5 separate regions of the Homo sapiens genome follow, and all the other regions are linked to region 5. Evidence: fine-mapped expression QTL. A gene starts in region 5. Each other region holds a variant in brackets. All regions are shown on one strand. Distances are from middle to middle.

Region 1 (5,108 bases), 68 kb before region 5:
ACTATAGCACCTCACTGAAGAGTGTTTTATCCAGTCAAAACATTTCCCACAGTGGTTTTGGTATCTCTAGCAAGAAGGCTGGGCCTCATTAAACCAATTTGTATCAAAGTATGACTGCCTGATGGAAAAAAACACTTTATCAGGGTTTACTTATTTTTGTTTTGAGACAGTTTGGCTCTTGTTGCCCAGGCTGGAGTGCAATGGCACGATCTCAGCTCACTACAACCTCCTCCTCCCAGGTTCAAGCGATTCTCCTGCCTCAGCCTCCCGAGCAGCTGGGATTACAGGCATGCGCCACCAATGCCTGGCTAATTTTTGTATTTTTTTGTAGAGACAGTTTTGCCAGGTTGCCCAGGCTCGTCTCAAACTCCTGACCTCAAAGCAATCCACCTGTCTCAGCCTCCCGATGTGCTGGGATTACAGGTGTGAGCCACTGCACTGTACCGGGCCTTAAATGGATTTTTAAACCAAAGATTTATGAATGCAAATGAATTAGTAGCATGTATGCTGTTCTTTTTGAGGAGGGGACCTTTTTTTTTTAATTAATTTTTGTTTTTTGAGATGGAGTCTCGCTCTGTCGCCCAGGCTGGAGTGCAGTGGCGCCATCTCGGCCCACTGCAAGCTCTGCCTCCCGGGTTCACGCCATTCTCCTGACTCAGTCTCCCGAGTAGCTAGGATTGCAGGCACGCGCCACCACGCCCGGCTAATTTTTTGTATTTTTTTTTAGTAGAGACGGGATTTCACCGTGTTAGCCAGGATGGTCTCAATCTCCTGACCTCGTGATCTGCGAGGAGGGGACCTTTCTTCTGCCGCTTGTCTGAGAGAGGTTTCTGAAGCAGAATGTGAGGTTGAGGTCTGCACATAAAGAGCTGCTGTGACTGGGACATATCTTTAGATGTTACAGCTAGCTTTAATTTGCTGGCCTCTACCAGTGTTTACTTAAGCTTATTAACATGCTATGTTTAGAGGCTCACTTAGAACCCCTTTTGTACTCTGGGTCTCTTAAAGCATTGCTGTGATTGGTCTTTATCTTTGGCATTTCCTAGTAGCTTGTCTGTTGTGTATCCAGAACACAGTTACTCTTGTTACAGTCCCATCACATTTTAAGAAGGTGCAGGAGAGAGACAACAAAATGAGGATGTGACTTTTTTTTTTTTTTTTTTTTTTTGAGATGGAGTCTCGCTCTGTCACCCAGGCTGGGGTGCAATGGCGTGATCTTGGCTCACTGCAACTTCCACCTCCTAAGTTCAAGCGATTCTCCCACCCCAGCCTCCCGAGTAGCTGGGATTACAGGCACCCACCATCACGTCTGGCTAATTTTTGTATTTTTGTAGGGCAGAGTTTCACCATGTTGGCCAGGCTGGTCTTGAACTCCTGACCTCAGGTGATCCACCCACCTCGGTCTCCCAAAGTGCTGGGATTACAGGTGTGAGCCACTGTCCCTGGCCGACAATGTGACTCTTGAGACTAAAAGAACAGTTGGGTATGCCATTTCTGGAGAGGACTCCTACATGTGAAAGGCACAGATACTGTTAAGTCCCCAGAAACTTGGATAGTCTGGCATTGGAGTTCACAGAATTGTTTGGGGAAATGAGCTTCCTTGGTAGGTAATTAGAGATTTAAAATGAAATTTGGGCTTCACATTCTAGTAGTGTCATATTGAGTATGAGTGTTGACATTTCGCTTAGAAATGTGGAAGAGTGACTGACTGTTCAGTTAACAAACATTTTAAATGTTTAAGAAAGGGAGGAGGATCATTAGCTCAAGTCAGAAAAATCAAATCTGAAATATTTAGTTTCTCTTTTATTGTATTGAATAATGGGACAAAAATGACATATCATTAACTGAGATTTTTATGCATTTTGAGGTATTAGGAGATAGGAGTACAAAAAAAA[AC/C]CCATCAGAATTCAGGTAGGTAGCTCTTAATTTTCAGTGTTTTGTATCCTCAGTCATATTTTGCCGTAACTGTGAATATGCCCTCTTACATCTTAAAAAAAAAAAAAAAAGATGGAGATAGATGTAGATACCTTGTCACCATAGTATTCCAAGGTTTTCATACTTTTTTTTTTTTCAGGTACCAGAGAATTTATGGTGGCCATATCAGAGGTCTTCCAGCCTAGATTACTTCTGGTCACTGATCTGTTATTGTCTCTAGCATAATAATAGAAATGTCAGGCCGTTCCTTCCAATAGCTTGTGTTTTCATTAGTCTCAACCTCATCTGTGAATGAGTGATTTGGGGGAAGAATGTGAGAGTCAACAAGCATGTATCCTGACAGGATCAGAAAAGAACAGGTTTGGGTAACTTTTTGGTTTGACTTGTACTCTGAGATCAGAGGAGGGTAAATGAACACTGGAAATGTGTGAACTCCAAGCTCCCTCTCCCACCTAACATGAAGAGATAGTTCAAGGAGGCCTACATAACTGCTGAGCTCTTTCAGTTTTTTTTTTTTTTTTTTTTTTTTGCTGGGGAATCGGGGGTTGTTGGGCTGGACAGGGTCTCCCTCTGTTGCCCAGGCTGGAGTGCAGTGGCACAATCATAGCTCACTGCAGCCTCTACCTCCTGGGCTCCAGCAGTCCTCTTGCCTCAGTCTTCCAAGTAGCTGGGACTAGAGGCACATGCCACTGGGCCCAGCCTATTTGCAAAACTTTTGTAGAGACAGAATCTCAATATGTTGCCCAGGCTGGTCTCAAACTCCTCATCTCTAACAGCCCTCCCGGCTTGGTCTCCTAAAGTGCTAGGATTACAGGCATGACCCACTGCACCTTGACTGCTTTGTGGTTTTTAACAATCTGTGAATCTACATAGTCTATGAATTAGGAATATTGTTTTGGAGCAGTCCACAAGCTGAGTCCCAAGTAGAGATCTCTGTTGGGATCTGCTTTTTGCAGTCACTAGTCTCAGTGAACCATACTGTATTTCTAGGAGGTTATTATAGAATTTGTTATTTCACAAATGAAATGTAAAAATTTTATTTTTGTCCGCCCCCCCAAAAAAATAAATAAATAAAAATGACCCAAAAAAGTGATTAAGGATATACAGCAATTCTGAGTTAGAAGGTTAGGATTTGAGTAAAAAATAATAGAAACAAGAAATGGAAGATGGGGAGCCCATTTAAGTAGAGATATTTGTTCTGTTAAAAAAAATCTACACATCTGATTTCTTTTCTTTTTTTTTTTTTTGAGACGGAGTCTCGCTCTGTCGCCCAGGCTGGAGTACAGTGGCGCGATCTCGGCTCACTGCAAGCTCCACCTCCCGGGTTCACGCCAGTCTCCTGCCTCAGCCTCCCGAGTAGCTGGGACTACAGGCGCCCGCCACCATGCCCACCTAATTTTTTGTATTTTTAGTAGAGACCGGGTTTCACCGTTTTAGCCAGGATGGTCTCAATCTCCTGACCTCGTGATCCGCCCGCCTCGGTCTCCCAAAGTGCTGGGATTACAGGCGTGAGCCACCGCGCCCGGCTACACATCAGATTTCTAATGAAATCTGTTGAGTGAATGTTCCTGATGATAGTCTTTGCAGGGTTCTTGTCTTTGTGAGCCGAGAAGACTCCCAAGGATGCCTTGGTTTATTTACTTCCCCTCTCTTTACCTTTAGTTTTTATCTGCCCTAATTGTATGGTTGAGTGCTTTCTCTCCACTGTTAGCAGCTAGCTGATTTCATTTCTGGTTTTTTTGCAAGCAACAACTGTCACTGCATGATATAGGTTGGGTTAATTTTTCCTTTGAATTTACCGGTGACTTGGGCTCATTAACCAGGCGGTCACAAGTGCTGTACAGTAACAGGCTTTCTGTCCCTGTAGAATGGGATGCTTTGTTTTGAAGTGCCCTTGAGACAATCTTAATCTGTAATAACAAAGGAACCTAGAAATCATGTCTTTGAAAATAGACATGTGGTCATTATTTATGATTATAGCAAACTTTAATTTACTGGTACTAATAGTGAGGCTCCATGGTATAGTTAATCACAAAAGTTTATGTTTGGTTCTGGAATTTCTCACGATGTTTCTGGACACCAATTGCTATTCCAGGGATATTTTATTTAGACTGATCATTTAATTGGATTTTAGTCCCTGACAGAGTGGAGGGACAGTTCACAAAAGGGGAAAAAAAAATCAATGGATATATAAAATTTCACTCTCACAAATAAGAAAAGAATTCAAATATATGTAAATGGAAATTATTTACTAATTTCTATCTTAAGTTTTTTTTTTGGCGGGGGACAGGATCTCACTGTCGCCCAGGCTCGAGAGCAGTGGTGTGATCATGGCTTATTGCAACCTCAACCTCTGGGCTCAAGCCATCCTCCCACCTCAGCCTCTCAGGTAGTGGGGACTACAGGTGTGTGTCACCACACCTGGTTAATTGTTTTGTATTTTTCGTAGAAACAAGGTTTCACCATGTTGCCCAGGCTGGTCTTGAACTCCTGGGCTCCAGCAGTCCACCCACCTTGGCCTCCCAAAGTGCTGGGATTACAGGTGTGAGCCTCCACACCTGGCCTTAAGTATTTTTAATGATCATAATTAATTCTGGGGAAAATATGGAAAAATGGGCATATGGCTGATAGGAACATAAATTGGACAGCCTTTCTAGCAAGTAGTTTGGTAACATATTTTAAGCCACTTAAGAAGCTTTTCCAGGGCTGGGGGAAATGGAGAAAGAATACTAATGGGTATGGGTTTCTTTTGGAGTGATGAAAATGTTCTGAAATTACATAAGGCTATTAGTCGTACAGCATTGTGATTTTTTTTTCATCTCTGCTGCTGGCAGATGAATTGAAAGAGAATTTTATCGTATACAAACCATTATCTCAATAAAGCTATTTTCTTACTTTTTTTTTTTTGAAACGGAGTCTTACTCTGTGGCCCAGACTGGAGTGCAGTGGCATGATCTCAGCTCACTGCAACCTCTGCCTCCCAGATTCAAGCAGTTCTCCTGCCTCAGCCTCCCAAGTAGCTGGGACTACCGGCGTGCACCACCATGTCTTGGCTGATTTTTGTATTTTTAGTAGAGATGGAGTTTCACCATGTTGGCCAAAGTGGTCTTGAACTCTTGACCTCAAGTGACCCACCTGCCTCGGCCTCCCAAAGGCTGGGATTACAGGTGTGA
Region 2 (5,129 bases), 92 kb after region 5:
TGGGAGGTGGAGGTTGCAGTGAGCTGAGATTGTGCCACTGCACTCCATCCTGAGCAACAGAGCAAGACTCCGTCCCCCCCCACAAAAAAGGACACCAGTCCTGTTGGATTAGCCCGGCTAATTTTGTTTTTTCGGTAGAGATGGGGTTTCTCCATGTTGGCTTGTCTCGAACTCCCGACCTCAGGTGATCCGCCTGCCTTGGCCTCCCAAAGTGCTGGGATTACAGGGGTGAGCCACCACGCCCGGCCCAGTGTCCTTTTCAGAAGAGGAAAAAGCACCAGGAGTGGTCACACACAGACAAAAGGCCATGGGAGGACACAGCAAGAAGGTGGCCATCTACAGGCCAAGAAAAGAGGCCTCAGGAAAAACCAAACCTACCAACACTTTGGTCTTAGACTTCCAGCCTCCAGAACTGTGAGAAAATAAATTCTGTTGGTTAAGTTACCCAGTCTGCAGTATTTTGTTATGGAAGCCCTAGATGACTAATACAAGAAGGAAAGTATATTGCAATTACTCATATATTTGCTTTCCACGTTCTTTTTTCTTTCTTTTTTTTTTTTTTTTGAGACAGAGTCTCGCTCTGTCACCCAGGCTGGAGTGCAGTGGTGCGATCTCAGCTCACTGCAAGCTCCGCCTCCCGGGTTCACGCCATTCTCCTGCCTCAGCCTCTCTGAGTAGCTGGGATTACAGGCACCCGCCACCACGCCCGGCTAATTTTTTATATTTTTAGTAGAGACGGGGTTTCACCGTGGTCTCGATCTCCTGACCTCGTGATCCGCCCGCCTCGGCCTTCCAAAGTGCTGGGATTACAAGTGTGGGCCACTCCACGTTCTTTTTTCATCCTTGATGTTCCAAGGTCCCTTCTTTTATCATTTCCCTTTCTTTTCAAGAACTTCCTTTAGCTTTTTTTTTTTTTTTTTTGAGATGGAGTCTTGCCCTGTCACCAAGACTGGATTGCAGTGGTGCGATCTCTGCTCACTGCAACCTCCACCTCCCAGGTTCAACCGATTTTCCTGCCTCAGCCTCCAGAGTAGCTGGGACTACAGGCATGTGCCACTATGCCTGGCTAATTTTTGTATTTTTAGTAGAGACTAGGTTTTGCCACGTTGGCCAGGCTGGTCTCAAACTCCTGGCCTCAAGTGATCCGCCTGCCTCGGTTTCCCAAAGTGATGGGATTACAGGCATGAGCCACTGCACCCGGCCCCCTTTTAGCCACTTTTTTAAAGGGTAGATCTACAAATGACAAATTCTCTTAGTTTTTCTTCATCTGAAAATGTGTTGATTTCTCTTTCATCTTTGATAGTTTTTTTCTTCTAGCATTTGAAAAAAGTTGTGCCACTTTCTTCTGGCCTTTTTTAGTTTCTGGTGAGAAATCTATTGTGGTTCAATCTGTTTTTCCCTTATGAGAAAGATGTTTTTCTCTTACTGCTGTCAAGATTTTTTCTTTGTTATTAGTTTTCAGGAGTTAGATTATTACGTGTCCTGGTATAGATTTCTTTGAGTTTATCATGTTTGTGGTTTTCTCAGCTTCTTGAACTTGTAGTTCTAGGTCTCTTGTCAAATTTGAGGAATTTTCTGCCATTATTTCTTCTTTTTTTTTCTTTTTCTTTTTTTTTTTTTTTTTTTTTTTTTTTTTTTTTTTTTTTTTGAGACGGAGTCTCGCTCTGTCACCCAGGCTGGAGTGCAGTGGCGCGATCTCGGCTCACTGCAAGCTCCGCCTCCCGGGTTCACGCCATTCTCCTGCCCCAGCCTCCCGAGTAACTGGGACTACAGGCGCCCGCCACCACATCGGGTAATTTTTTTTTGTATTTTTAGTAGAGACGGGGTTTCACTGTATTAGCCAGGATGGTCTCGATCTCCTGACCTCGTGATCCTCCTGCCTCGGCCTCCCAAAGTGCTGGGATTACAGGCGTGAATCACCACACCCAGCCCATTATTTCTTTGAATAAGTTTTCGGTCTTACATTCTTACTCCTTCTAGGACTCTGACGACATAATTTTCTCTCTCTCTCTCTCTTTCTCTCTCTCTTTCTCTCTCTCTCCCTCCCTCTCTCCCTCTCTCCCTCTCTCCCTCTCTCCCTCTCTCCCTCTCCCTCTCTCCCCTTTCTTTCTTTCTTTTCTTTTCTTTTTTGAGGCAGAGTCTCGCTCTGCTGCCCAGGCTGGAGTGCAGTGGCACAATCTCGGCTCACTGCAACCTCCGCCTTCTGCCTCCCGGGGTCAAGCGATTCTCCTGCCTCAGCCTCCCGAGTAC[T/C]TGAGATTACAGACGCCCGCCATCATGGCCGGCTAATTTTTGTATTTTAGTAGAGACAGGGTTCGGCCATGTTGCCTAGGCTGGTCTCAAACTCCTAAGCTCAAAGCAATCTGACCACCTCAGCCTCCCAAAGTGCTGGGATTATAGGCATGAGCCACCACACCTGGACTGAAATATTCTTTAATATTAAAATTAAATTTCATAAAAAGGAATGAAAGTATGACACATGCTACAACATGGATGAAACTTGAAAACATGCTAAGTGAAATAAGGCAGATTGTAAAAGGACAAATATTGTATGATTCCACTTAAGTGAAATATCTAGACTAGACTAGACTAGGCAAATTTATAGAGACAGAAAGTAGATTACAGATTACCAGGGGCTAGGAGAAGCAGGGAATGGAGAATTGTTGTTTAATGGGAACAGAATTTCTCTTTTATTTTGGAAATAGATAGTGGTGATAGTTATGCACATTGTCAGTGTAATTAATGCCACTGAATTGTACATTAAAAAATGGTTAAGGCTGTGCGCGGTGTCATGCCTGTAATCCCAGCACTTTGGGAGGCTGAGGCAGGTGGATCACCTTAGATCAGGAGTTCGAGCACTACCTGTCCAACATGGTGAAACCCCATCTCTACTAAAAATACAAAAATTAGCTGGGTATGATGGCGAGTGCCTGTAATCCCAGCTACTCGGGAGGCTGAGGCAGAAGAATTGCTTGAACCCAAGAGGTGGAGGTTGCAGTGAGCCGAGATCGTACCACTGCACTCCAGCCTGTGCAACAGAGCAAGACTCCATCTCAAAAAAAAAAAAAAGGTTAAAATGGGGACCAGGCACAGTGGCTCATTTCTACAATCCCAGAACTTTAGGAGGCTGAGGTGGGAGAATACATTGAGGCCTGGAGTTCAAGAGTAGCCTGAGCAACATAGCAAGGCTCCGTCTCTATATTACAAAAAAAAAAAAAAAAATATATATATATATATATATATATATATGGCCGGGCACAGTGGCTCACGCCTGTAATCCCAGCATTTTGGGAGGTCAAGGTGGGCGGATCACGAGGTCAAGAGATCAAGAAGGTCATCCTGGCCAACATAGTTCACATGGCAGCAGAGTGAGACTCTGCCTCAAAAAAAAAAAAAAAAAAAAGGAAAGAAAGAAAGAAAATTATGTCGTCAGAGTCCTAGAAGGAGTAAGAATTTAAAAATTCAAAAATTAGCTGAGCATGGTGTTGTGTGCCTATAGTCCCAGCTACTTGGGAGGCTGAGGCAGGAGAATTGCTTGAACTCGGGAGGCAGAGGTTGCAGTGAGCCAAGATCATGCCACTGCACTCCAGCCTGGCAATAGACCAAGACTCCATCTCAAAAAAAAAAAAAAAATATATATATACACACACACACACACACACACACACACACACACATATATTTATATATATAATGGTTAAAATGGCAACTTTTATATTTTACCACAATTTTAAAAATTAACATGATATACCAAAACCATTGAATTGCACTCTTTGAGTGAATTGTGTGGTATGTGAATTATATATCAATAATCTGTTTTGTTTTGTTTTGTTTTTGAGACAGAGTCTTGCTCTGTTGCCCAGGCTGGAGTGCAATGGCACGATCTCAGCTCACTGCAACCTCTGCCTCCCCGGGTTCAAGCAATACTCCTGCCTCAGCCTCCTGAGTAGCTGAGATTATAGGCATGCATCACCACAGCCTGCTAATATTTGTTTTTTGTTTTGTTTTGTTTTTGAGACAGAGTCTCACTCTGTCACCCATGCAGGAGTGCAGTGGCATGATCTTAGCTCACTACAACCTCCGCCTCCTGTGTTCAGGCGATTCTCCTGCTTCAGCCTCCCAAGTAGCTGGCACTATAGGCGCCCGCCACCACACCTGGCTAATTTTTCGCATTTTTAGTAGAGACAGTGTTTCACCGTGTTAGCCAGGATGGTCTCAATCTCCTGTCCTCGTGATCCACCCGCCTCGGCCTCCCAAAGTGTTGGGATTACAGGCATGAGCCACCGTGCCCAGCCAATAATACTCGTATTTTTATTAGAGGAGGGATTTCGCCATGTTGGCCCGGCTGGCCTCGAATGCCTGACCTCTGGTCAATAATCTATTTTCTTAAAAAGATTCATGGTGAAGATATGGAGAAATCGGAACCCCCATTCACTACTGGTGAAGATGTAAAATGGGGCAACTACTTTGGAAAATAGTCTGGCAATTTCTTAAAAGGCTTATCATAGAGTTACCATATAATCCAACAATTCCACTCCTAGGTATACACCTAAGAGAAATAAAAACCAAATGTCCACAGAAAAACGTGTACACAAATGTTCATAACAGCATTATACACAATAGCCCAAAATTGGAAACAACCCAGATGTTCAACAATGGATGAATGGATAAAGAAAGTGTAGTATAGCCATACAATGAGATGTTATTCAGCAATAAAAAGGGATGAAGTAATGACACATGTTACAACAAAAACCTTGAAAACATAGTAAGTGAAAGAAGTCAGTCAAAAAAGACCACATATGTGACTGCATTTATATGATATGTCTAGAGTAGACAAATCTATAGAGGCAAAAAGTGGATTATTAATGCCTAGGGCTGGGGTGATGGGGAGAATGGAACGTGATGGCTAAAGGGCATGGGGTTTCTTGGCCAGACACAGTGGCTCACACCTGTAATCTCAGCATTTTGGGAGGCTGAGGCAGGAAGATGGCTTGAGCCCAGGAGTTCAAGACTAGCCTGGGCAACATAGTGACACCCAGTCTCAACAAAAAAGAATAAATATTGTTTTAAAGAAAAAATAATAAAGTCAAAAAAGTGAAAAAAATAATAAAAGGGCATGGGGTTTCTTTTCA
Region 3 (5,000 bases), 58 kb after region 5:
GCACCATCGTACTCCAGCCTGGGCGTGGAGGGAGACTCGGTCAGAAAAAAAAAAAAAAGAGAAAAAGAATTTAGTGGCTCACGCCTCTAATCCCAGCACTTTGGGAGGTTGAGATGGGCAGATCCCTTGAGTCCAGGAGTTCCAGGCCAGCCTGGGCAACATGGCAAAACCCCGTCTCTACAAAGAATACAAAAAATTAGCCAGGTATGGTGGCACACGCCTGTAGTCCCAGCTACCCTAGAGGCTGAGGCAGGAGAATCCCCTGAGCCCAGGCAGTCAAGGCTGCCGTGAGCCGTGATCATGCCACTGCACTCCAGCCTGGGCAACAGAGTGAGACCCCCCCATCTGAACAACAAAAATAAAAATAAAAATGAATGCAGGCTATTTCTAATTGATTAAAATAGCCCCTAACATTATTAAAATTAACTGTGTTGAGGTAGACTAAAAAGGATTTGTATTTCACTATTGTGAACTTTAAGACTCAACAGTTGGGCAGCATGGCTGTGCACTCCTGGTAGAGGCATGCCTCTCTTACCCTTCACAGATTTTCTTGACTCTGTTTTTCAGCTGATCGCCTTGGAAGAAAATGATAAACACAGACTTGTGCACGTAGTCGCCCTAGGCCCCAGAATAAAAAAACAAGAGTTCAGACTTCTGTATCTGGATGAAAATCTCTTAAATAACCCACTTTTTTGGTGATGCAAGAACAACAGGCATCTTTTAAGGACATGGCAGTCCTGCATTTTAACCACTGCCCTCACTCCATTTCCTAAGCTTCACTACAAGAACATCTGCCCTATAATCTCTAATTCACAAAAATCTTTCTCTATTTGTTTTTTTGACTCAACCAGGAGCTTGAAGCTAAGATGATGCTCCTCTTAGCACTGTTTAGACTTATTTACCAATTCAGCTTTAAATCTTATATTGCCTGAATGATGAAAGTATAGGAGAGAAAAGAGAAGGAAGCCATTTCTGCCTGTTCTGGGACTTAGAAATTCTTAGATAAAAGGGGCTGAATAACTACAAGGAACTGAGTCCCTGGAAAGAATGCTGATATAGAATCTCACAATTCAAGCTAATCTGGACTTTATGGGGCAGGGAGGAAGGTAATCCATTCCAAATACCAAATTTATACCTGAAGTATGATGCAAGGACTGGAAGGAAAGATCAGAAAAAAAGGTGTATGGTGTGTTAACCAGGATTGTCTCAGGTTGCCTGTATTTTCTCATAGTCATACACAGCATGTAGAGCTTTTATAATAACAAACAAAACTTTAGAAGGATAAAAGGGGATGAGGAGTGAAGAAAATTGGGCTCAAGGGTCTGAAATCCCTAAATTCTGTAGGCTAAACTAGAACCCATTCTTTGTGCAGCCTGCTCTGTTACAGATATCCAGGGTCCCCATTTCTGGATTTGTTGATAAAATAACCTTTCTGTTGCCAAGAGGAAACTTGACTGAATATTCCTGAGAAAAGTTCCTCATTAATGTGACTACAAATTACAACGTTTCCACAACCTGATGGCCTTTGGCAAGATTGTGAAACTACACCCCTAGGCAGGGGGTTCACCTGAAGTGTAACCACACTCCTCCACGGCATGGAGGATGAAAGACCTGCAGCTGCACAGCCCACCCAATCTGAGAAATCTCACAATTCAATCTCTCTCTTTTTAGGTAAAGAACACGAATTTAAGAAATTCACAAGATAATTTAGAACAGAAAAGCTAACTTTAGGTTTCTAAATAATACTAGTACAAAAGCAAAGCAAAATTTTTGCAGTACATTTATCTTCACTGGTACTCCCTGAAATCAGGACTCACCATACCTAAATGCAGGTTTAGACGATAAACTCTGTCCCATTATGGCAAATGCCAGGATGTTAAACTGTTTCTACTTCCTGAAGTACTGGGTGGGGAAGATCATCCTATTTTGTGCGATATCTATTCTTAAACTAAGTTTCTAATCCTTCCAACAAACAAACAAAAAAACTTTACCAAGTAAAATTTCATCAGCTTATTAAGATCACAGTCTAGGAAATCTCTCCTTCTCTTTTTATACATGAATATTACCAAACTTGGGGCTGGGCATGGTGGCTTATGCCTATAATCCCAACACTTTGGGAGGCCGAGGCAGGCAGATCACTTGAGATCAGAAGTTCAAGACCAGCCTAGGCAACATGGTAAAACACTGTCTGTACTGAAAATACAGAAAAAATTAGCCAGGCATCATGGCACATGCCTGTAATCCCCAGCTACTCGGGAGGCTGAGGCAGGAGAATCGCTTGAACCCAGGAAGCGGAGGTTGTGGTGAGCCGAGATCGCGCCACTGCACTCTAGCCTGGACAACAGAGTGAGACTCC[A/TA]CCTCAAAAAAAAAAAAATTACCAAATTTGGAACCAGATGTCTTGCTTTAAAGTTAATTTTCATAAAAGGCAAATGAGTGAAAATAAAAATTTCCAATCAGAATAACATCTACACGGGTAAACTTGAAAATATGTATATGTCATGTATACATCATACATCCATATGTATATATGACAGGAATTAACTAAGAGGAAGTACTTCAAATTCTCCAATTAGAGCAGAGATAAAGATAATGGCTCCTCTGTGGAAGCACTGGATTCAGGTGGCCCCATGCTACGTTACTGCTCTGGGCTCCCTTTACAAGACCTACTCCACAGGATGCAATCTCCTTGTCTTACAGTCACAGGATCCTCCAGGGGGTTCTCGATTTCAGCCTGTCGCAGGAACACATTTCCCCGGCATACCCGCCAAAGCATGCGCTCAAAAGTAGGGATGCGCTCCCGGTTAATGACACCAGCCACGAAGCTGTGGGGAGAAGAGGCAGATTGGAAACTCTATTCCATGTCATGGGATGGAAGGTTTTAATACAAGTCTTTTTTATTTATATTTATATATATATCTTTTTTTATTATACTTTAAGTTCTAGGGTACATGTGCACAACGTGCAGGTTCATTACATATGTATACATGTGCCATGTTGGTGTGCTGCACCCATTAACTCGTCATTTACATTAGGTATATCTCCTAATGCTCTCCCTCCCCCCTCCCCCCACCCCACAACAGGCCCCGGTGTGTGATGTTCCCCTTCCTGTGTCCAAGTGTTCTCATTGTTCAATTTCCACCTATGAGTGAGAACATGTGGTGTTTGGTTTTTTGTCCTTGTGATAGTTTGCTGAGAATGATGGTTTCCAGCTTCATCCATGTCCCTACAAAGGACAGGAACTCATCATTTTTTATGGCTACATAGTATTCCATTGTGTATATGTGCCACACTTTCTTAATCCAGTCTATCATTGATGGACATTTGGGTTGGTTTAATACAAGTCTTATTCCCAGCTTCACTTATGGACCCAGCAGAGAGCTGACAGAGCAACTCAGGCATGAATCCAGAGTTGTAGGACTATCTCAATAGGCTCAGAAGAGGGCATATCCTGGTAGCAAGTGAATCCCCAGTCTCACTGCTCTTCTGAACAGAAGAGATGAACATGGCCCCACTGAATACCGAAAAGTTGACATGGCACTTACCCAAGTCTTAAAGGAGTGCCTCTTCCCATCTCACTTGGCTCCAAGAGGGATGAGGACTCTTCCAACAAGTCTGGATCCGCCATCTGCTGATGATGCAATTCAGCCTGAATTCACAAATCAATTAATATCTAATGAAAATAGTTAGTGGCATGCAGGCAACGAGGAACCAGGAGACAGGTTCAGAAAATAAGGATGAAAAAGAAAACAAACCACGAAAAGACAAGATATATCCATAAAAAGACAAGAAGAATAGGGGATGAAAACACAGAAAATAAATTTGAGGTAAAGAAAGCATAATTGCCCCAGTAAAGCATCTGGGGAAATGGTTTTAGAAATAAGGAGCAAAAGGAAAAAAAATTAAGTGATGGTGACATGTATAAATCTGTTACTTGGTGGAAGCCATTTTCTCTCCTACGTTTCCCTGAATGAATGATGAAAGTGCCAGGAAATACCTCTGCATGTAGATAGGAAGCTAAAATATCTCTTCTTTCTGTGCAATAATGAAGAGACTCTGCAGATACTCTGAACATTTAATTTCTAGGCAGCTACAAACTAGAATTTTCCCTACGTGAGAATGTGAAAGATAGAGGCTCTCTTTCCAAGGAAGAAGCAAGGCACTGCCACTGTCTTTGAATGCTGTGAAGTCTGGAGAAAGACAGAAGGGGAAGCTCCAGGTATCTACGTTTCCAGCCCCTTTAAAATTCAGAATATGAGAACTTTCAGCATGGCCACTTATAGAATGATCCAAGCCATGGGATTTAAAGAGTATTTATGTCTTCAAAAGGATAAGAAGCACAATAGCTGGGCAGGCCTGTAAAAACATATCTGAATGTCCCATTTTCTGACTAGGAATCTTCTAAATAAGTTCACATAGGCTTTACAGTTGTAGGATTCTTGAGAACACAGCTCAAGAATCAAGTAAAGTGAAGGAAAAACAACAGATAATAAACCAAACTAGAGTTCATGGGCTGGTTTAATTGGTAAGATTTAAAATGACTTCCACCATGACAGTTTATACAATGAAATGAAGAAGGATCTTCCCACACGCAGGTCTACATTTCCTAGCCTCTCTCTACCGAACTCATCCTACCACCCTTTACTCCCATCAGAAAGGAGAAGCTGCTCCAAAAAACAAAACAAAACAAAACAAAACAAAAACCAGTCCAATCAACTTCTCCATTGCCTCATCTCCCCAACTCTAATACCCAGGCAATACTTGTTTGACCAAAAACTAGGAGTAAACCAGAACAATCATCCTCTTCAAAAGCACAATAAGACAAAAAATCAGAAGAGTTTTTCTCTATCATTTTCATTCCAAATTTCAATTTGATTCTACCCCTGTCAGCCACACTCTTAAAAAGTGGCACAGGGACCATAACTTGATAAAGTCATGGGATCATAAACATAGCAAAAAGGGGGAAAAACTGTGTATAAACCAGATGATAAGTCTGAAGGCCT
Region 4 (5,129 bases), 320 kb after region 5:
CCGAGAATCTCCCGTTTTACACGTGGGGAAGCCAAGGCACAGGAAAGGAAAGCGATTTGCCCAGGTTCACCTGCAGTCAAGGGCATGGGCACACTTACACCCCAGACAGCCTGGACCCATGCTGGGCCGCGAGAAGAGGGCTGGCAGCCCTGTGAGGCAGGCGGGCAGGAGGCAGGCAGGCCTCCTCCCCAGCTGCCCCAGCACCCGTGTGCCCCCAGAGGGGACGGCTCAGAGTCAGGAGGCTGGCGAGCAGGGCCCAGAGGCGCCTCCTGGGGCACCCATTCATCTTGGCCCCCCTGGCTGTCAGGAACCCCGACTTGCCCTTAATGCAGTATCTGAGCCCAGGAGGGTCTCGCTCCAGAACGGGTGAGTGGGCTTCTCTGGGCCTCCTGTTGGACACTGGGAGGTGATGGTCATGGTTTCCTCTCCCCTCCTCTAGCTCAGTTTGGCCCGCTGGCCCAGCTGAGCCCCCAGGAGCGTCTGAGCCGGGAGACGGCCCTCCAGCAGAAGCAGGTGTCTCTGGAGGCCTGGTTGCAGCGTGAGGCACAGACACTGCAGCAGTACCGCGTGGTGAGTGGGGTCCTGGGCCTCTCCTGGGCGTGGGTGCCATGAAGTCAGTCTCTGGGGACCCGAGGGAGGGCTGGGACCAGCATGAGAGCAGAACCTGGGAGGGCAGGAGGCCTTTTTTCCTGGGGGCCTTGCGAGGCAGAGCAGCTTGGGGAGAGGGAACGGCCTGGGCCCTGCCCTGCCATTTCCCAGCGAGGCCCTGCGGTGTTCTCTGGGAGCCCAGAAGGGGCTGCTCTCCTCCCTTCCCTCAGGAGCTGGCCGAGAAGCACCAGAAGACCCTGCAGCTGCTGCGGAAGCAGCAGACCATCATCCTGGATGACGAGCTGATCCAGTGGAAGCGGCGGCAGCAGCTGGCCGGGAACGGCGGGCCCCCCGAGGGCAGCCTGGACGTGCTACAGTCCTGGTAATGGTGTGGGGCGGCCAGCGGGCAGGGCAGGAGGGGCTGGTGGGGATCCCGGCTGCTTCTGCGTCCTGTGCTGGCTCCTGCAGCAGGCCCCCTCCATCCTGGGACAGCTCTTGTTTCTCCAGGGAGCCTGGTTCCTCAATCAGACTTTGGCCCCCATCCTGTGCACCTCCCCCAGGAAGGGGGCTGCTGTCCTGGAGATGGGACAGGGTTCGGGTGTGTGGGGTGATGCTTGGGCTGTTTGGGCCTAGTCAGGGTCGCCCCTCCTGTGTACGTCTCTAATTCTGGGAGGCAGGGAGCTCTGCTCTTCCCATGGGTGGGAAGTGTGGCGAAAGCACAGAGCCTTCCTGGGGGAACGGGAGCTGTGTCTTGGGGCCTGGCGTCTGTGCGGAGGAGCCATTGTCCTCCTGTTGGCCTTGGGGCTCTCGTGCAGGTGTGAGAAGTTGGCCGAGATCATCTGGCAGAACCGGCAGCAGATCCGCAGGGCTGAGCACCTCTGCCAGCAGCTGCCCATCCCCGGCCCAGTGGAGGAGATGCTGGCCGAGGTCAACGCCACCATCACGGACATTATCTCAGCCCTGGTGACCAGGTGACTGCTGCCTGTTTGCCATGCCCAGGAGCTTGGGGCAGCTCCTGCCTGCGTGGGGGGAGCCGCAGGTGCCTTCCAGACCAGCAGATCCACTTCCTGCCTCTCATCCCTCCCAACTCCATCTCCAGTTGCTGTGGCCCTTGCCCAGTTTCTCCTGTGGACACTGCAAGAGATGCCCTTGGGCTGCAGCCCATGCCAGCTTCTGTGTTATCTCACTCCCCTCTCCATCCTCTCCCTGGACTCTCACGGCTTCCCCAGGAACAGAGGCTGTGCCCGAGCTCTTCACCTCCTGAGCCCCTCGGGAGGCAGCCCCACCCCCACCACAGAGGGACTGAGAGCCCTTTCCCCTGCACCAGCCCCTCATCATGCATCTGTCCCTGTGTCCCCTGCAGCACGTTCATCATTGAGAAGCAGCCTCCTCAGGTCCTGAAGACCCAGACCAAGTTTGCAGCCACTGTGCGCCTGCTGGTGGGCGGGAAGCTGAACGTGCACATGAACCCCCC[C/A]CAGGTGAAGGCCACCATCATCAGTGAGCAGCAGGCCAAGTCTCTGCTCAAGAACGAGAACACCCGCAAGTAATTGTGCAGCTTCCTCTCATTCCCTGCTACTTGTCTCATGTCCTGGCAACAGGAAAAAAAGAATTCTGCCTCCTGTGTCAGATCCCTGTTTGCCCTTCTGGCCTCTTCTGGGCATCAGCAAAGGAATATAAGGAAGTTCTTGGGCCTGGTGTGGTGGCTCACACCTGTAATCCAAGCACTTTAAGAGGCCGAGGTGGGCAGATCACCTGAGGTCAGGAGTTCAAGACCAGCCTGGCCAACATGGTGAAACCCTGTCTCTACTAAAAATACAAAAAATTAGCCGGGCGTGGTGGCAGGCACCTGTAATCCCAGCCACTAGAGAGCCTGAGGCAGGAGAATCCCTTGAACCTGGGAGGCAGAGATTGCAGTGAGCTGAGATTGCAGTGAGCTGAGATCACGCCACTGCACTCCAGCCTGGGCAACAAGAGCAAAACTCCGTCACAAAAAAAAAAAAAAAAGTTCTCTTAGGAACTGTTTTCTGTGAAGATAGTTTGATCTTGTTTCATTTTGTAGAGATACGTCCGAGAAGATTACATGTATGTGTTATGTAGCTAACATTTCCTCTAAATGACGTACATTTTTAGCAAACTTCTCTATTTCCTGCTACCCCAAATTATATTATTTACTCCGCATGTCCTGAGACCCTGGCATGGGTTTGGAGCTGGTCTCTCTCTGATTTGCAGTGATTACAGTGGCGAGATCTTGAACAACTGCTGCGTCATGGAGTACCACCAAGCCACAGGCACCCTTAGTGCCCACTTCAGGAATATGGTGAGGGTGGAAGAAGAGGAAGAATGAATTTTTCCCTGGTCTTTGAGGGGAACAACTTATATCTTACGTTTCATCTTATGTTTCTTCTTTGTAGTCCCTGAAACGAATTAAGAGGTCAGACCGTCGTGGGGCAGAGTCGGTGACAGAAGAAAAATTTACAATCCTGTTTGAATCCCAGTTCAGTGTTGGTGGAAATGAGCTGGTTTTTCAAGTCAAGGTAAAGCCTTCCCTCAGCTCTGCGTGTGCGTGTGCGTGTGTGTGTGTGGTGTACTTTATGTTACAAAATATTTTTTTTTTATCACATAGCATCTTCTTCTTTTTGACTGTTGGTAAACTGAAAATGGACTGACCTCACCCTGAGAACTGTTTCACTTAGGTTCTCTTAAGACATGAACAGAGGCCAAGCACAGTGGCTCATGCTTGTAATCCCAGCACTTTGGTAGGTTGAGGCAGTCAGGTCACTTGAGGTCAAGAGTTCAAGACCAGCCTGGCTAACACAGTGAAACCCCATCTCTACTAAAAAGTACAAAAATTAGCCAGGCGTGGTGGCACGTGCCTATAATCCCAGCTACTCAGGAGAATCACTTGAACCTGGGAGGCTGAGGTTGTAATGAACCGAGATTGTGCCACTGCACTCCAGCCTGGGTGAAAGAGTGAGACCCTGTCTCAAAAAAAAAAAAAAAAGACATGAACAAGCAAGGCCCAGTGCAGTGGCTCACATCTGTAATCCTAACACTTTGGGAGGCCAAGGCAGGAGGATTGCTTGAGTTCAGGAGTTCCAGACCAGCCTGGAGCTGGTTGTGAGACCCCGTCTCAACAACAACAACAAATTAAAAAATAAAAAATAAAACATGAACAAACAATAATGAACTGAACTAGCTGGAGAGGTAGACTACAAAATGGATATGAGAAACATTACTTGGGATGAATTTGAGTAAAGGTTGTGGTAAGTTTTAAATTTGTTATTTGTATTTTCTTCCCAGAAATATCTCCAATAGTCTTTTCTCTCTCCTGTTCTCCATGTAACTTTGAGAAACTTTATCCTTCAGAAATATCTAAGCAACATTGCTTGTAAAATATTTAAAATTTCTAAGATTGTGCCAGTATGAAAAGTCATATTATTCCTGGGGCCATTTAGATTCTGTGTCTGAGAGGAACATTAACTGAAACTTGGAAAATAAAAGTGTTGTTATAATAAGAAAAAAAAAAAAGAGAGAAGGAGAAGAACTTGAGGCTCGTGGGCGCTCAGCCTTCTCTTGTGTCTTTTTAGACCCTGTCCCTGCCAGTGGTGGTGATCGTTCATGGCAGCCAGGACAACAATGCGACGGCCACTGTTCTCTGGGACAATGCTTTTGCAGAGCCTGTGAGTGTATTCCTCGGGCATGTGGGTCCCAAAATCAATGCCGGTGTCATGAATCTCATTTATGTATTATCCTTTTAAAAAGCATAGGAAAAGGCCGGGTGCAGTGACTCACACTTGTAATCCCAGCACTTTGGGAGGCCGAGGCGGTTGGATCACCTGAGGTCAGGAGTTCGAGACCAGCCTGGCCAACATAGCAAAATCCTGTTTCTATTAAAAAATACCGAAAAATTAGCTGGGTGTGGTGGCACATGCCTGTAGTCCCAGCTACTTGGGAGGCTGAGGCACGACAATCACTTGAACCCGAGCGGCAGAGGTTGCAGTGAGCCGAGATCGCACCACTGCACTCCAGCCTGGGTGACAGAGTGAGACTCCATCTCAATAATAAAAAAAAAGCATAGGAAAAAAGACGCTGTTTTCTTTAGTGGGAGGCAGAATAGAAAGAATGTGGAAAGTGGAAAGAACATGGGCTTGACATCGGGCCAGGGTTTGAACTGAGACTCCACCATTTCCTCACTCCATGACCACATGGGCAGTTCACTTTACCTCTCTGAGCCTGAGTTTCCAGCAAGTGTCTGCAGCACAGGGATACTCTTGCTCTACAGCATTGTTAGGAAGATTAAATTAGATAACATAGAAAATGCTTGCCACACAGTCAGTACTCAGTAAATATTATTTTGAATCCTTGGGTGAAACTATGAATGGGATTTGGGACTCCTAGGTTCACTCCAGAGGTTAGATCTCTCCAGAGGCTTACTTTAGCATAGAAGTTGCTTCATACCCTCTTCCTTTCAATAAATGAAGATGCTGTTAAATGTCTTTTCCAAATTTTAGTTTCTGTGATTCATTCTAGGTCTCATGAAG
Region 5 (5,129 bases):
GCTGCCATTTGCTAGCACTCTGTGCAAAGTCACAGATAGATCGAGAGATAATTACAAACCCTACAGCGAAGTGGGTAGAGATCCCATTTTACAAGTAAGGAAACTGAGGCACAGAGCAGTCATGTCATCTGCCCGAAGTCACACAGCTAATTAGTAGCAGAGTCAGAAATCAAACCCAGGCCTACGTCCAGAGCTTGTTTGTTTGTTTGAGACAGAGTTTCGCTCGTCACCCAGGCTGGAGTGCAATGGCGTGATCTTGACTCACTGCAACGTCTGCCTCCCAGGTTTAAGCAATTCTCCTGTCTCAGCCTCCTAAGTAGATGGGATTACAGGCGCGTGCCACCATGCCCAGCTAATTTTTATATTTTTAGTAGAGACAGGGTTTCACCATGTTGGCCAGGCTGGTCTCGAACTCCTGACCTCAGGTGATCCGCCCAACTCGGCCTCCCAAAGTGCTGGGATTACAGGCGTGAGCCACTGCGCCCGGCCCAGAGCTTAAGTTTTTAAGTCATGTTCTAGAAGGGAATAAAATTCCCTCTCTGAGCTAAGTGGAGGGGGTGAGCGGAACCTCACCTGGTGACAGCCTCGGGAACATGCCCCGCGAATGCAGGCAGCACTGGGGTCATGCCGAAGGAGCGCATCTGGTCCAGGACCCGGTGCTGGAGGAACAGAAGGAAGGGTGGTGAGCATGGCCACTGCTGTCCTATGAGAAGGCCCTCATCTCCCAGGATACACGCAGCCCCCCGCCTCAGTTAAGAGCCCTGGGGCCGGCCTAATACCACCCTTCCTGGGCCCATGACCATCTATCACCGATTCTGCCCCTTCCCTTTTCCATCCTTTTACCTGCAGGTAAAGCTGCTTGATGTGCCAGGAGGGGGGCAGGGGGCCATCCCAGGTGTGCAGGTTGCCCATTCGCCCCCAGGCCAGGAAGGCAGGACCAGTAAAGAACTCATTGATCTCTGCCTGGGTCAGGCCCAAGGCCAGGTACACCTGAGGAAGAAGGGCCCACACATAGAAATATATTCATCTTCATTCATTCATTCATTCATTCAACAACCATTCACTCATTGCTTCTTTGTGCTGGGTGCTAGGGCTACTGAGACAAAATCCGAACGCTGCCATCAAGGAGCCCACAGCCCAGAGGAAAGAGACCTGTGAGTAGGTGAGTTCACTGTGTTGCCTTTGTCGCATGGGTGAGGAGATGGGGCACAAAGGGGCTTTCCCCCAACAGGAAGGCCTTAGAAGGCTTCATGGAGCAAGAGTGCCAGATGGAAGGGCAGGGCAACTGTGTGAAGAGCTTAAGCAGAGCCTGGAGCAGCCATTGCAGCACAGAAGCTTCCAGGGAGGCAGATCTAGAGCTGCCCATGAGTTGGATCCAAGGGACCAGGTGATTGGCTGCATAGGGGAGATGGGGGAAGGAGCCCCACTCCTCAAACTGGAAGCCTCAGTTTTTTTTTTTTTTTTTTTTAGACAGAGTCTCGCTCTGTTGCCCAGGTTGCTATTTCTTTGTATTTTAGTAGAGACGGGGTTTCACAATGTTGGCCAGGATGGTCTCGATCTCCTGAACTCCTGATCCGCCCGCCTAGGCCTCCCGAAGTGCTGGGATGACAGGCGTGAGCCACCGCGCCCGGCCGGAAGCCTCAGTTTTTAGGAGGCCCAAGCCACTGTGCACGCTGAAAGCACTTCTAGAGAGAGACACTGCGCCCATGCTGGGGGGCGGGTGAAAACACCTACGGTGGCTCCCGCCATAGAGGAGGGTGGGGAAGGGACAGTGGGCACGCACCCGCTGCCAGATGGCCTCCTGGCCGCTCCAGGCCAGTGCCAGGTTGATGCCATTCAGCGCCATCCAGTCTATCTCTCGCTCCCAGCGGGCCCAGTCCCACCACACGAAAGAGTAGCTTTGCGTGCACACATTCTGGTAATAGCGGTACCTGCGGGCAGTGTCATGAGCAGGGGCGCATCCCACCCTGGAGGGTCCACGGCCCTGGAACAAATCCCCCATCCCCCACCTAGAGGAGAGGGGAGGGGCTCCAAACTCGGCCCTTCTGCTGCACACTGGGACCCACCCCAGGTGGAGCTGAGACCAGGTACCGGGGCTGGGCTTCTGAGGCACTCGTCCCCTGCACTCTCCCAGGGCCCTCTAGCCTGGCGGGTATTTGGGTGGCATATTCCACTTTCATGCCACACTGCCAGAGCCCCTCCTCTGCACGGTGTTTTCCTGGAACGGGGAATCCCTGCCCCCACAGTCTAACAGATGGGCAGGGGAGGACAGCTGTGTGAACACATCACTCCATAGTGTGGCAGGCGCTGGAACACAGGCCTGTAGGGTGGGGGATGGAGGCGTCCTTCCTCAGTCCGCAGGTTCAAAGAGAAGGTGGGGGAGGAAGGCAAGAAAATTCACTCATCACCAATTGTGCACCACAAATTCTATGCCCATCATCGTGCAAATCCTCACAATAACACTGCACGGTAGGCGTCTTCTTTCCGTTTTTCAGGTGGGCCAGCCGAGGCTCTGAAAGGCAGAGTGGCTGGCTCAAGGCCACACAGCTGCTGGAGGCGGCGCAGCTGGGCCTTCCGGCCAGCGCTCCCCGCTCAGCCTCCCGATTTGGGTGGCAGCGGCTCCGGGAGGGGGTAAGCGCCTCGGGCGGACGCGGGGAAGCTTCGGGGCGGTACCTGTTGGGCGTGGCCTCGGTCAGCTCCCCCGGCACGGCTGGCAGTGGCCGCGGCAGGCGCAGCTGAGAGCCGGACCAGGCCACGTGGCAGCCACAGAAGTCGCGCAGGTAGCGGTGCAGCCCCGCGGCGGCCGCCACGCCCGTGGAGCCGCGCACCCGCACGCGCGCCGCGCCGCCGCCGCCCAGGCTGTAGGTGTCCAAGCCCGGCTTGGCAGCCAGAGCGCGCTCCACCGACACGGAGAAGTCGGCCGCGGGGCCTGGCCCCAGCAGCCGGGCCACGAGCGCCCGCACGGCCGCCGCCTCCCGGGCCTCGTCGCCTGCCGCGCCCCCGGCCCCGGCCAGGAGAAGGACCCCCACCGCCGCGGCCACCGCCACCGCCTCCATGGTCTCAGTCCTGCGGGTCCCGCGACGGCCAGGGGGTGGGGCGGCCCGCGTCCAATCAGCTGCCGGCCTCCGGCCACGTGGACCCGAAGGCTAAGCCCGGGCTCAGGGCCAGGAGTCGCGGCTTCCGGGTACCAGGATACTCCCTTGGGGGCGTCTCGTGACCGCACGCGGTGGGGAGCGTGTGACCCCGGCTCCAGGGCCGAAGGGGACCCGCTGGCCCTCACAGAGCGCCTTCGGGTAAAACGCGCTTTCACACGCAAATAACTTCCATCCAACCATCTAATAAATACACATTTGGAGTTTATTTTGTATCAGGCACTGCCATAGCTACTTCCCTACTGATGAACGAGAAGACGGTCCCTACCGTCCCCGTCAGGGAGGTGACCTAGAAACCAGATATTTAACGTAAGTAAGGATTTCCATCATAGTTGTGATGCTGCGAAGTAGTGCAGTAAGTAGCGAAGTAGCGAAGTAAGGTTTCCAAAGGAAGTGACTTTTAATCTGAAACTCAGGGATGAATAGGAATTGGCTAGAAGAGGGAAAGGAAGAGCCTTCCAGACAGAAGAAATGCATTTATTGAAGGCCCTGAGAAGGCAGAGAGCTTGCAGATTTGAGTAACTAACAGGCTAGGAGGTTCGAGGAGGGATGGGGCCATGTGAGCCCAGGCCGGCGGTGGAGCAGGGCTGGCGGGCACGTTAAAGGCTGTCCATTGGCGGCAGCAGCAGCAACATAACAGGAGCTGTCATTTTGTCAGAAGTTTCCAACCAGAGCGACTCCATCTTGAACAGGGGCTGGGTAAAATGAGGCAGAGACCTGCTGGGCTGAATTCCCAGGAGGTTAGGCCTTCGTCACAGGATGAGACAGGAGGTCAGCACAAGATAAAAGGTCACAAGACCCCGCTGATAAAACAGAATGCAGCAAAGAAACTGGTCAAAACCTGCCAAAACCAAGACAGGAAGGTGACCTCTGATCGTCCTCACTGCTCATTATACGCTAATTATAATGCATTAGTATGCTAAAGACACTCCTAGCAGCGCCAGGCAGTTTACAAATGCCATGGCAACGTCCAGAAGTTACCCTATATGGTCTAAACAGTGGAGGAACCTTCAGTTGGGGGGGATCCCCACCCCTTTTCTGAAAAATTCATTACTAACCCACCCCTTGTTTATCATATAATCAAGAAATAACCATAAAAATAGCCAACCTTAGGCCAGGAGCGGTGGCTTACGCCTGTAATCCCAGCACTCTGGGAGGCTGAGGCTTGCAGATCACCTCAAGTCAGGGGTTTGAGACCAGCCTGGCCAACATACAGTGAAACCCCGTCTGTACTAAAAATACAAAAGTTAGCCAGGTGCTGGGCGCGGTGGCTCACGCCTGTAATCCCAGCACTTTGGGAGGCCAAGACGGGCGGATACGAGGTCAGGAGATCAAGACCCTCCTGGCTAACACGGTGAAACTCCATCTCTACTAAAAATACAAAAAATTAGCCGGGCGTGTTGGCGAGCGCCTGTACTCCCAGCTACTCGGGAGGCTAAGGCAGGAGAATGGCGTGAACCGGAGAGGCGGAGGTTGCAGTGAGCCAAGATCACACCACTGCACTCCAGCCTGGGGGACAGAGCAAGACTCCCTCTCAAAAAAAAAAAAAAGAAAAAAAGTTAGCCAGGCTTGGTGGCACACGCCTGTAGTCCCAGCTACTTGGGAAGCTGAGGCAGGAGAATCGCTTGAACGCTGGAGGTGGAAGTTGCAGTGAGCCAAGATCGTGCCATTTGCATTCCAGCCTGGATGACAGAGCGAGACTCCATATCAAAAAAACAAACAAACAAACAAAAAAAGTTGAAAGAGGCCTGGAATCAGATATCAACTTTAGATACTAGGGAAGTATGATTTTTTTTTTTAATCTCAGCTCACGGGAACCTCAGCCACCCAGGTTCAAGCCATTCTCCTGTCTCAGTCTCCTGAGTAGCTGGGATTACAGGCACGTGCCACCAAGCCCAGTTAACCTTTGTAGGGATGGGATTTCACCATGTTGTCCAGGCTGGTCTCGAACTCTTTTTTTTTCTTAAACATTTTATT

Alleles and levels. Positions count from the first base shown, and alleles are read on the strand shown. Sizes are in standard deviations (SD) of each study's normalised expression. Not every link is listed here.
With allele C in place of AC in region 1, the expression in monocytes after interferon gamma of the gene that starts at base 3,088 in region 5 is higher (large effect, 1.4 SD a copy in Fairfax 2014).

The links. PIP is the estimated chance that this variant, and not a neighbour inherited with it, causes the effect.
Region 1: its variant is fine-mapped to the expression of NAGLU in monocytes after interferon gamma (Fairfax 2014, PIP 0.95).
Region 2: its variant is fine-mapped to the expression of NAGLU in lung (TOPMed, PIP 0.95).
Region 3: its variant is fine-mapped to the expression of NAGLU in whole blood (TOPMed, PIP above 0.99). The same link has a PIP of 0.9 or more in lung.
Region 4: its variant is fine-mapped to the expression of NAGLU in whole blood (TOPMed, PIP above 0.99).

What each region holds. Positions count from the first base shown.
Region 1 is chr17:42,602,051-42,607,158 of GRCh38, reverse strand. All of the region lies in intron 1 of RETREG3 (reticulophagy regulator family member 3), which reads left to right. Among named protein-coding and RNA genes, the nearest start is that of RETREG3, 4.8 kb to the left of the region's middle. The variant AC/C (reference allele first, on the strand shown) is at 1,896.
Region 2 is chr17:42,442,659-42,447,787 of GRCh38, reverse strand. All of the region lies in intron 3 of LOC102725238 (a long non-coding RNA gene), which reads right to left. Among named protein-coding and RNA genes, the nearest start is that of ATP6V0A1, 14 kb to the left of the region's middle. The variant T/C (reference allele first, on the strand shown) is at 2,251.
Region 3 is chr17:42,476,285-42,481,284 of GRCh38, reverse strand. ATP6V0A1 (ATPase H+ transporting V0 subunit a1) reads right to left here. Exons shown (of 22, transcript NM_001130021.3): 6 at 3,543-3,625; 7 at 2,696-2,822; 8 at 536-618. Among named protein-coding and RNA genes, the nearest start is that of MIR548AT, 16 kb to the left of the region's middle. The variant A/TA (reference allele first, on the strand shown) is at 2,357.
Region 4 is chr17:42,215,153-42,220,281 of GRCh38, reverse strand. STAT5B (signal transducer and activator of transcription 5B) reads left to right here. Exons shown (of 19, transcript NM_012448.4): 6 at 440-570; 7 at 819-970; 8 at 1,404-1,559; 9 at 1,952-2,131; 10 at 2,818-2,905; 11 at 3,000-3,122; 12 at 4,176-4,268. Among named protein-coding and RNA genes, the nearest start is that of GHDC, 23 kb to the right of the region's middle. The variant C/A (reference allele first, on the strand shown) is at 2,063.
Region 5 is chr17:42,534,200-42,539,328 of GRCh38, reverse strand. NAGLU (N-acetyl-alpha-glucosaminidase) reads right to left here and starts at 3,088. Exons shown (of 6, transcript NM_000263.4): 1 at 2,674-3,088; 2 at 1,784-1,931; 3 at 844-990; 4 at 574-659. The coding sequence starts at 3,056. It also overlaps the pseudogene PTP4A2P1. RefSeq lists silencers at 2,586-2,655, 2,776-3,185 and enhancers at 2,045-2,782, 3,296-3,375.